Homo sapiens: one gene and its partners. The protein of the gene in region 3 purifies or fractionates together with the protein of the main gene of each other region. This does not show direct contact. Each region holds a gene or a part of one and is shown on either strand. Other genes may lie near its edges.

What was found.
Region 1: the proteins of RPP14 (region 3) and RPP38 purify together in Homo sapiens (co-immunoprecipitation; 2 studies listed by BioGRID and IntAct, with this or other methods). This does not show direct contact.
Region 2: the proteins of RPP14 (region 3) and CLIC2 purify together in Homo sapiens (affinity purification with mass spectrometry; one large-scale study listed by BioGRID and IntAct). This does not show direct contact.

What each region holds. Positions count from the first base shown.
Region 1 is NC_000010.11:15,100,216-15,102,576, reverse strand, and holds part of RPP38 (ribonuclease P protein subunit p38), read right to left. Parts: intron 360-2,361; 5' UTR 241-359; intron 1-240. UniProt on the Homo sapiens protein: Component of ribonuclease P, a ribonucleoprotein complex that generates mature tRNA molecules by cleaving their 5'-ends. Also a component of the MRP ribonuclease complex, which cleaves pre-rRNA sequences.
Region 2 is NC_000023.11:155,324,463-155,328,122, forward strand, and holds part of CLIC2 (chloride intracellular channel protein 2), read right to left. Parts: intron 1-3,660. UniProt on the Homo sapiens protein: In the soluble state, catalyzes glutaredoxin-like thiol disulfide exchange reactions with reduced glutathione as electron donor. Displays weak glutathione peroxidase activity. Can insert into membranes and form chloride ion channels.
Region 3 is NC_000003.12:58,309,245-58,312,904, reverse strand, and holds part of RPP14 (ribonuclease P protein subunit p14), read right to left. Parts: intron 2,597-3,660; 5' UTR 2,576-2,596; coding exon 2,499-2,575; intron 2,399-2,498; coding exon 2,314-2,398; intron 1-2,313. UniProt on the Homo sapiens protein: Component of ribonuclease P, a ribonucleoprotein complex that generates mature tRNA molecules by cleaving their 5'-ends.

The DNA of each region.
Region 1 (2,361 bases), on a different chromosome or scaffold from region 3:
GTGACTGTATGGTATTAATCTTCTAACTTGTTACTGTTTTCCAAAATGCTATCTAGTTGGGCTTCCATGCATTCACTCAACAAATATTCTAGGCCTGGCACACTGGCTCATGCCTTCAGTCTCAGAATTTCGGGAGGCTGTGGTGGACAGATCACTTCAGCCCATGAGTTCGAGACCACTCTGAGCAAATGGAGAAACCCTCTACAAAAAATACATAAATTAGCTAAGTGTGAGGCGTACCTGTAGTCCCAGCTACTTGGGAGGCTGAGGTGGGAAGATCACTTGAGCCCAGGAGGTCAAGGATGCAGTGAGCGTGATTGTGCCACCACACTCCAGCCCAGTAACACATCTGACCCTGTCTGCAAAAAAAAAAAAAAAAAAATGATCTGAGCACCTCCAGTATGCAAGTGGTGTTCTAGGTCCTGGGGCTCACAGTAAGCAAGACCCGATGTCCACCCACGTAGAGCTCCCAATCTGCAAATACTCTGGTGGCCTCTGCCATTCACAACCAATCAGGTGTGATATTTTAAAGAACTGAACAGTCATCTCATGATTAAAACTTCAAATAACACTGTCACGTCCACTTTTGTAAGTCTCCCCACCTCCCAGGGCCCTAAATTTCTTGAATATCCTTCCTACAGCATTTGATACATATGCAGGCATACACTCCCTTTTTTTTGTTTTTTGAGACGGAGTTTTGCTCTTGTTGCCTAGGCTGGAGTGCAATGGCATGATCTCAGCTTATTGCAACCTCTGCCTCCCAGATTCAAGCGATTCTCCTGCCACAGCCTCCGGAGTAGCTGGGATTATAGGTGCCCAACACCACGCCTGGCTAATTTTTGTATTTTTAGTAGAGATGGGGTTCACCATGTTGGCCAGGCGGGTCTCGAACTCCTGACCTCAGGTGATTCACCCACCTCAGCTTCCCAGAGTGCTGGGATTACAGGAACGAGCCACCACTCCCGGCCAGTCCTCCTTTTTAGGGGGACCCCGAGCTGACTTCTCTGGCTGGCAATTCCATGAAGACTAGGGAAATGTAATGAAATTTAAAGATACTAATCCATTGAGGAAAAATGAGTAGAAGGATGCTTAATGGGGAAAATGTTATAAACTATTGGTCCAGAGGGCATATCCTTTTATCCTTCCCAGAGGCAACTACACACTCCCTTCTCTTCCCTCAGTTTTCTTCCCTTCCTTCCTGGGGCTCAGCTAGAATCACAGGGACCCACCTGGCAAAACTAAAGGAAGTTATATCCTTTGCATTTATACTACCACTTACTAGGCTGGCAGCTGATGTTGAAGGCAAGTGTGTCTGTGCAGTGTATCGCTGTATAAAGCACTCTCTCCATGTATTATTTGCTTCTTACAGCATTCCTATAGAATCCCCCAATGTGTGCATTAGGAAACTGACTCACTGCCTAAAGTCACAACTAGTTTTCCAAATCCAAGTTTTCTGTTCTTTCAATCCTTGCTACACCTCAAAAATAACCTGTGGCTTCTTAAAACATGCAGATGCTTGGTCCTCAACCCAGATCTACTGAATTGGAATCTTCAATAATAAGGCCTGGGCATCTGTGCTTATAAAAAGCTGCCCCAGGCCGGGTGCAGTGGCTCACGCCAGTAACCAAAGCACATTGGGAGCCCAAGGCGGGCGGATCATAAGGTCAGGAGTTCGAGACCAGCCTGGCCAATATGGCGAAATCCCGTCTCTACTAAAAAATACAAAAAAATTAGCCAGGCATGGTGGTGCCTGCCTGTAATCCCAGCTACTTGGAGGCTGAGGCAGGAGAATCTCTTGAATCCAGGAGACGGAGGTTGTAGTGAGTCAAGATCGCGCCACTGCATTCTAGCCTGGGCGACAGCAAGACTCCATATCAAAAAAAAAAAAAAAGTTGCCCTCGTGAATCTGATTCAGAGCCGGAATCAGGAACCACTGGTGTAGGACAGGGTGTTTCCACACTGGACAGCCCCGAGAAAGGGCCCCCTGAGCGCTATTGGTCTCTGATATTCTTCCCAGACACTTTCCCACAGAAAAGCCAAATTCAGCTCCTTAGGGTGAGAGATCACACCCTGGTCATCTCGGTACAGCAATCCTGGAGACTTCTGGGGCCTAAGCTGCTTCCTTCACGGTGGCCACACTGTGTCCCCTGACCCCATTATCTCTATGCTCCCCTAGAGCTCAGGAAATCAGGAAGAAAAGTGGCTCATCCAGATGCAATGCAGTGACTGTGAGGGGCTGGCATCAGGTTCAAAGTGGTCAGGAAGAGGGAAATAAGTGACAGGGGGTGAAACAAATAGGATGGGGCAGAGCTCTTGCCAACTGCAAGTCAGATGATGTCTCCACATCCAAACACCACAGAA
Region 2 (3,660 bases), on a different chromosome or scaffold from region 3:
CATCTACAACCATCTGATCTTTGACAAACCTGACAAAAACAAGAAATGGGGAAAGATTCCCTATTTAATAAATGGTGCTGGGAAAACTGGCTAGCCATATGCAGAAAACGGAATCTGGACCCCTTCCTTACACCTTATACAAAAATTAACTCAAGATGGATTAAAAACTTAAACATAAGACCTAAAACCATAAAAACCCTAGAAAAAAACCTAGGCAATACCATTCAGGACATAGGCATGGGCAAAGACTTCATGACTAAAACAACAAAAGCAATGGCAACAAAAGCCAAAATTGACAAATGGGATCTAATTAAACTAAAGAGCTTCTGCATGGCAAAAGAAACTGTCATCAGAGTGATCAGGCAACCTACAGAATGGAGAAAATTTTTGCAATCTATCCATCTGACAAGGGGCTAATATCCAGAATCTACAAGGAACTTAAATAAATTTACAAGAAAAAACCAAACAACCCCATCAAAAAGTGGGTGAAGGATATGAGCGTCTCAAAAGAAGACATTTATGTGGCCAACAATCATATGAATAAAAGCTAATCATCACTGATCATTAGAGAAATGCAAATCAAAACCGCAATGAGATACCATCTCACATCAGTTAAAATGGCAATCATTAAAAAGTCAGGAAACAACAGATGCTGGAGAGGATGTGGAGAAATAGGAACACTTTTACACTGTTAGTAGGAATGTCAATTAGTTCAATCATTGTGGAAGACAGTGTGAAAATTCCTCAAGGATCTAGAATCAGAAATACCATTTGACCCAGCAATCCCATTACTGGGTATATACCCAAAGGATTATAAATCATTCTACCATAAAGGCACATGCACACATATGTTTACTGCAGCACTATTTACAAGAGCAAAGACTTGGAATCAACCCAAAGGGCCATCAATGATAGAATGGACAAAGAAAATGTGGCACAGATACACCATGGAATATTATGCAGCCATAAAAGAGAATGAGTTCATGTCCTTTGCAGAGACATGGATAAAGATGGAACCCATCATTCTCAGCAAACTAACACAGGAACAGAAAAGCAAACACCACATGTTCTCACTCATAAGTGGGAGCTGAACAATGAGAACACATGGAACACTGGAGCCAGTTGCGGAGTGGGGGGAAATGAGAGGGAGAGCATTACCTAATGCATGTGGAGCCCAAAACCTAGATGACGGGTTGATGGGTGCAGCAAACCACCATGGCACATGTATACCTATGTAACAAACCTGCACGTTCTGCACATGCATCCAAGAACTGAAAGTATAATAAAAAAGAAAATGTGATATATATATATATATATATATATATATATATATATATATATATATGCACACATACACACACCATGGAATACTACTCAGCCATAAAAAGGCACTAAATAATGGCATTTGCAGCAACCTGGAAGGAATTGGAGACTATTATTCTAAGTGAAGTAACTCAGGAATGGAAAGCCAAACATGGTATGTTCTCACTTATAATTGGGAGCTAAGCTATGAGGACGCAAAGGCATAAGAATGATACAATGGACTTTGAAGACTCAGAGAAAGGGGTGGGGGAGTGAAGATAAAAGACTACACATTGGGTACAGTGTACACTGCTTGGGTGACGGATGCACCAATATCTCTGAAATCACTACTATATATCTTATTCATGTAACCAAACTTCACCTGTTCCCCAAAAACCCATTGAAAAATAAATAATTCTTTTTAAAAAGAAACAAAATCATTGTGTTGTATACATTGAATATATACAATCTTTATTTGCCAACTAAATACTCTAAAATAAAAAAGGAAAAAAGAAAATGAGCAAAGGACATGGACAGACATTGCACTGAAGAGGACATGCAGATGACAAATAAGCAGACAAAATGTTCAATTTTATTAGCCTTTTGGGAAATGCAAATTTAAACAATAAAATGTCACTACACAGCTTTCAAAATAGTTAAGATAATAATAGTGACAACACAAAATGCTGGTAAGAATGCACAGAAATATTGCTGGTTTTAATGTAAAATAGTATGACCACACTGGAAAGCACTTTGGCAATTTCTTCCAAATCTAAACATGCAGCTGCTACGCGACCAAACAACTAGACCCTTTGGCATTTATCTCAGAGAAATGAAAACTTATGTCCATAAAGAAACCTGTAAAAGAGGATTTATACAGCCTTGTTTGTAATAACCCAAAACTAGTGACAACCAAAATGTCCTTCAACAGCTGAATAATTAAACAAACTGTGGCATATCAGTATCATGGAGTAGTACTCAGCAATAAAAAGGATCAAACTGTTGATACACACAACAACTTGGATGAAGTTCCAGGGAATTGTGCTGAGTGGGGAAAAAAAAGACAATCCCAAAAGGTGATATACTGTTTTATTCCATTTACGTAACATTCTTGACATGATAAAATTATCAAAGCAGAAAAGAGATTAATGGTTGAGGGACTGGATGAGACACAAGTGGATGTGGCTTTAAAAGGGCAACACGGATCTGTGTAGTGATGAAAATCTTCTGTATCTGACTGCATCAATGTCAATAATGTCCTGGTTTTCTTATCATACTATAGTTTTACAAGATGTTATCATTAAGGGAAACTTGGTAAAGGGCACACAGCATCTCTCTGTATTATTTCTTAAAACTGCATGTGAATCTTCAACTATCTCAACATAACAACGCCTTAATTTTAAAAAATTTTAGTCATAAGAAACCAAGACACACATACATACAGATAATATATTTAATGTTATAGAAATAAATTCATAATATATTGTGAAATAAAAATAGTTTGCAAAACAATGTATTAAAAGTAATGGCAAAAAGCGCAATTAATTTTGTACCAACTTAATATATGAAATAACCTCTTTTTGATGAATGTATTTATCTATATATGTGAGGAAATAAAGCATAAGAGGCTATACACATAAATGTTAAAGTGGGTGGTATCATGGATGATTTTTATTGATTTTATTTTCACTTAGTGATATTTTGTAATTTATGTAACTAAAATAAAATAAAGTCACTTTTTTAAAAAAGAATGAGATCATGTCCTTTATAGGAACATGAACAGAGCTAGAAGCCATTATCCCTAGCAAATTAATGCAGCAACAGAAAACCAAATACCACACATTCTCACTTACAAGTGGCAGCTAAAAGATGAGAATACATGGACTCAGAAAAAAAAATAGCTAATGGGTACTAGGCTTAATACCTGGGTGATGAAATAATTTGTACAACAAACACCCATGACACAAGTTTACCTAAATAACAAATCTGCACATGTACCCCTGTACTTAAAAGTGAAAACAAAAACAAAACAAAAGATCATTTATCATGACCAAGTGCAATTTATTCCAGTGATGCAAGAATGGTTCAACATACACACATCAATTAATGAGATACATCATATCAACAGAATGAAGAACAAAAACCTCATGATCATTTTAATTGTTGCTGAAAAAGCATTTGATAATATTAAACATCCCTTTATGACAAAAAACCCTCAAAAACATGGGTATAGAGGGAACATACCTCAACAGAATAAAAGCCATATATGACAAACCCATAGCTAGTATTATACTGAATGGACAAAAACTGAAATCCTGTCCTCTAAGATTGGGAACATAACAAGGATGCCCACTTTCA
Region 3 (3,660 bases):
ACTGCAACCTCTGCCTCCCAGGTTCAAGCAATTCTCCTGCCTCAGTCTTCCAAGTAGCTGGGACTACAAGCGTGCGCCACCATGCCCAGCTAATTTTTGTATTTTCAGTAGAGAAAGCGTTTCACCACGTTGGCCAGGCTAGTCTCAAACTCCTGACTGTAAGTGATCTGCTCATCTCAGCCTCCCGAAGAGCTGGGATTATAGGAGTGAGCCACTGCGCCTGGCCCATAAGGAGACTTTCTCATTAAAAGTGGTTCTGCTGCAAATTCCTTATCTCTTCAAGATGGGAAAAGAGTTTGCAGGTGCCAGTCTAGGCCACACTTTGAGTAGCACTGTGCTACAACAATCATTTGTCTAACGTGTTCCTTGTCAAACAGAAGGCATATTAGAATAAACCCAACAAAATTCATCACTTCTGAAAGTTTACTTCTGCAATTTCAAACACAGTTTTAAAATAATCTCTAGGGGAATACAAAAATTAGCTGGGCGTGGTGGCAGGTACCTGTAGTCTCAGCTACTCGGGAGGCTGAGGCAGGAGAATCACTTGAATCCGGGAGGGGCGGGGGGGGGTGCGGAGGTTGTGCCACTGCACTCCAGCCTGGGTGACAGAGCGAGACTCTGTCTCAAAAAATAAATAAATAAAAATAAAATAAAATAATCTCTAGGGGAACCCTCACACACTACTGGGAGGAATGTAAATGTACAACCACTGTGGAGAGCAGTATGGAGGTTTCCCAAAAAACTAAAAATAGGTCAGGTGCAGTGGCTCATGTCTGTAATCCCAGTGCTTTGGGAGGCCAAGGCAGGAGGATTGCTTGAGTCCAGGAGCCTGGGCAACATAGTGAGACCTTGCCTCTACAAGTAAAAAAATTGGCGTGGTGGCACACGCCTGTGGTCCCAGCTACTCGGGATACTGAGGTGGGAGAATCACTTGAGCTTGGGAGGTTGAGGCTGTAGTGAGCCATGACCATGCCACTGCACTCCACCCTGGGCATCACGGCAAGACTTCATCTCAAAAACAAAAAACAAAAGAAACTAAACTAAAAATAGAATACCATTTAATCCAGCAAGTCTACTACTGAGCATAAATCCAAGAGAAAGGAAATCAATTCAAAAAGACATGTGCAGCTGGGCATAGTGGCTCATGCTGTCATCCCAGCACTTTGGGAAGCCAAGGTGGGGAAAAAAAAAAAAAAGGACATATGCACTCTCATATTTATTGTATTCCCAATAGGCAAAATGTAGAACTTAAGTGCCCATCAATGGATAAAAAAAAAAAAGTGGTATATATTACAATGGAATATTATTCAGCCATAAAAAAGAATGAAATTCTGTCATTTGCAGCATCATGAATAGAACTGGAGGCCATTTTGTTAAGTGAAGCCAGCCAGGCACAGAAAGACAACTGTTGCATGTTCTCACTCATATGTGAGAGCTAAAAAAGCAGATCTTGCCAGGCACAGTGGCTCGTGCCTGTAATCCAGCACTTTGGGAGCCCAAGGCGCGTGGATCACCTGAGGTCAGGAGTTCAAGACCAGCCTGGCCAACATGACGAAACCCTGTCTCTAGTAAAAATACAAAAATTAGTTGGGCATGGTAGCGTGTGCCTGTAATCTCAGCTACCAGGGGGGCTAAGGCAGGAAGATCCCTTGAATCTGGGAGGCAGAGGCTGCAGTGAGCCAAGAATGTGCCATTGCACTCCAGCCTGGGCAACAAAGCAAGACTCCATCTCAAAGAAAAACAACAACAACAACAACAACAACAACAAAAAGTAGATTTCATGAGGATAGAAAGTAGATTGGTGATTATCAGAGGCTGGGAAGGGTAGGAGGGTAGAGAGGATGAAGGAGGAAAAAAAGGAATACAAATGTGTTTATTACAATAAATGAATAAAAATTTAAAAATACAGAGTTGTATAATTTATTTTTTTTTTTTTTTTGATGTTTGAAAAGCATTCTTTCTCGATTTTTTTTTTTGTGACAGAGTCTCGCTCTGTTGCCAGGCTGGAGTGCAGTGGCGTTATCTCGGCTCACTGCAACCTCTGCCTCCCGGGTTCAAGCAATTATCCTGCCTCAGCCTCCCGAGTAGCTGGGATTACAGGTGCCTGCCACCACACCCAGCTTATCTTTGCAGTTTTAGTACAGATGGGGTTTCACCATGTTGGCCAGGATGGTCTCGATCTCTTGACCTCATGATCTGCCCACCTCGGCCTCCAAAGTGCTGGGATTACAGGCGTGAGCTACCGCGCCCGGCCTCTTTCTGTATTTCTTACAAAGATCTTTGGAATGTTCAATCTACCAAGTGATTCCATACCTCCCCAAACAGGTCCTTCACAGCCGAAATAAGCAGCTGTTTGAACTGTGCAGCATTCAGTCCAACTCCACAATCTTGAAATTCTCTAAAAAAAGTGAAAAAAAAAAAAGTCATATTAAATTTCATTCTATTCAGATTCATGTTAGAAAAGTAATCTAAAATAGAACTTAGGAAACTAAACTTACAGGCAGACTTTCATGTAGTGGTACTCGGAAGGGTTTTTGTAAACTACTCTTTCATATGTGGCAGCAGGGGCAGGCATCTTTTCCAGTGCTGATCACACCTACAGTAAGTCAAGAGGGCTAGAAATGACCAATGCACATGCTATTTTTCAGAGTTTTGATGAGAATTTGGCCTATTTGGGTTTTTTTTGTTTGTTTGTTTTAAGGCAGGGTCTCACCCTGTCACCTAGGCTGAAGTGCAGTGGTACAATCAGAGTTCACTGCAGCCTCCACCTCTGGCTCTCGAGGCTCAGGTGATCCTCCTGCCTCAGACTCCTGAGTAGCTGGGAGTATAGGCACGTGCCACCACATCCAGCAGATTTTTGTATTTTTTGTAGAGACAGGGTTTCACCATGTTGCCCAGGCTGGTTTCAAACTCCTGGGCTCAAGCAATTTGCCCAACTCAGCCTCCCAAAGTGCTGGGATTACAAGTGTGAGCCACCAGGCCCGGCCTTCCTGTTATTATTATTTTTTTTTTGGAGAAGGAGTCTTGCTCTGTCGCCCAGGCTGGAGTGCAGTGGCACAATCTTGGCTCACTGCAACCTCTGCCTCGCGGATTCAAGCAATTCTCCTGCCTCAGCCTCCCGAGTAGCTGGGATTATAGGAATGTGCTACCACGCCCGGCTACCTTTTTTGTATTTTTAGTAGAGACAGGGTTTCACCATATTGGTCAGGCTGGTCTCGAACTCCTGACCTCGTGATACGCCTGCCTCGGCCTCCCAGAGTGCCGGTATTACAGGTGTGAGCCACTGTGCCTGGCCTCCTGTTTGGTTTTTAAGACTTCTGAGCACAGTAACTCATCTAATTCTGATCAAACTAAGGTTACCCATACGAATACAAAATAAGTTTCTATATTCTATAAATGTCAAATCACTGTACTCTTACTTAAAACATAACAACATAATTTTGGCTAACAATTTTCCTTATGAGCACCCAGCTCTTTGCTAAACATTTCACATGCCTTAGCTTGTCTTCAAAATGCTCCTGAGGTAAGAGGTATTATTATTCCCATTTTCGAGAAGATGACACAGAGGTTTAGTAAACGTAGGTAACATCTGCCCAAGGGTGCCCAGAGATTCCAACCACTCTGAGCCCACTCAAGACCAGTTACGATGCCTCTTTATCC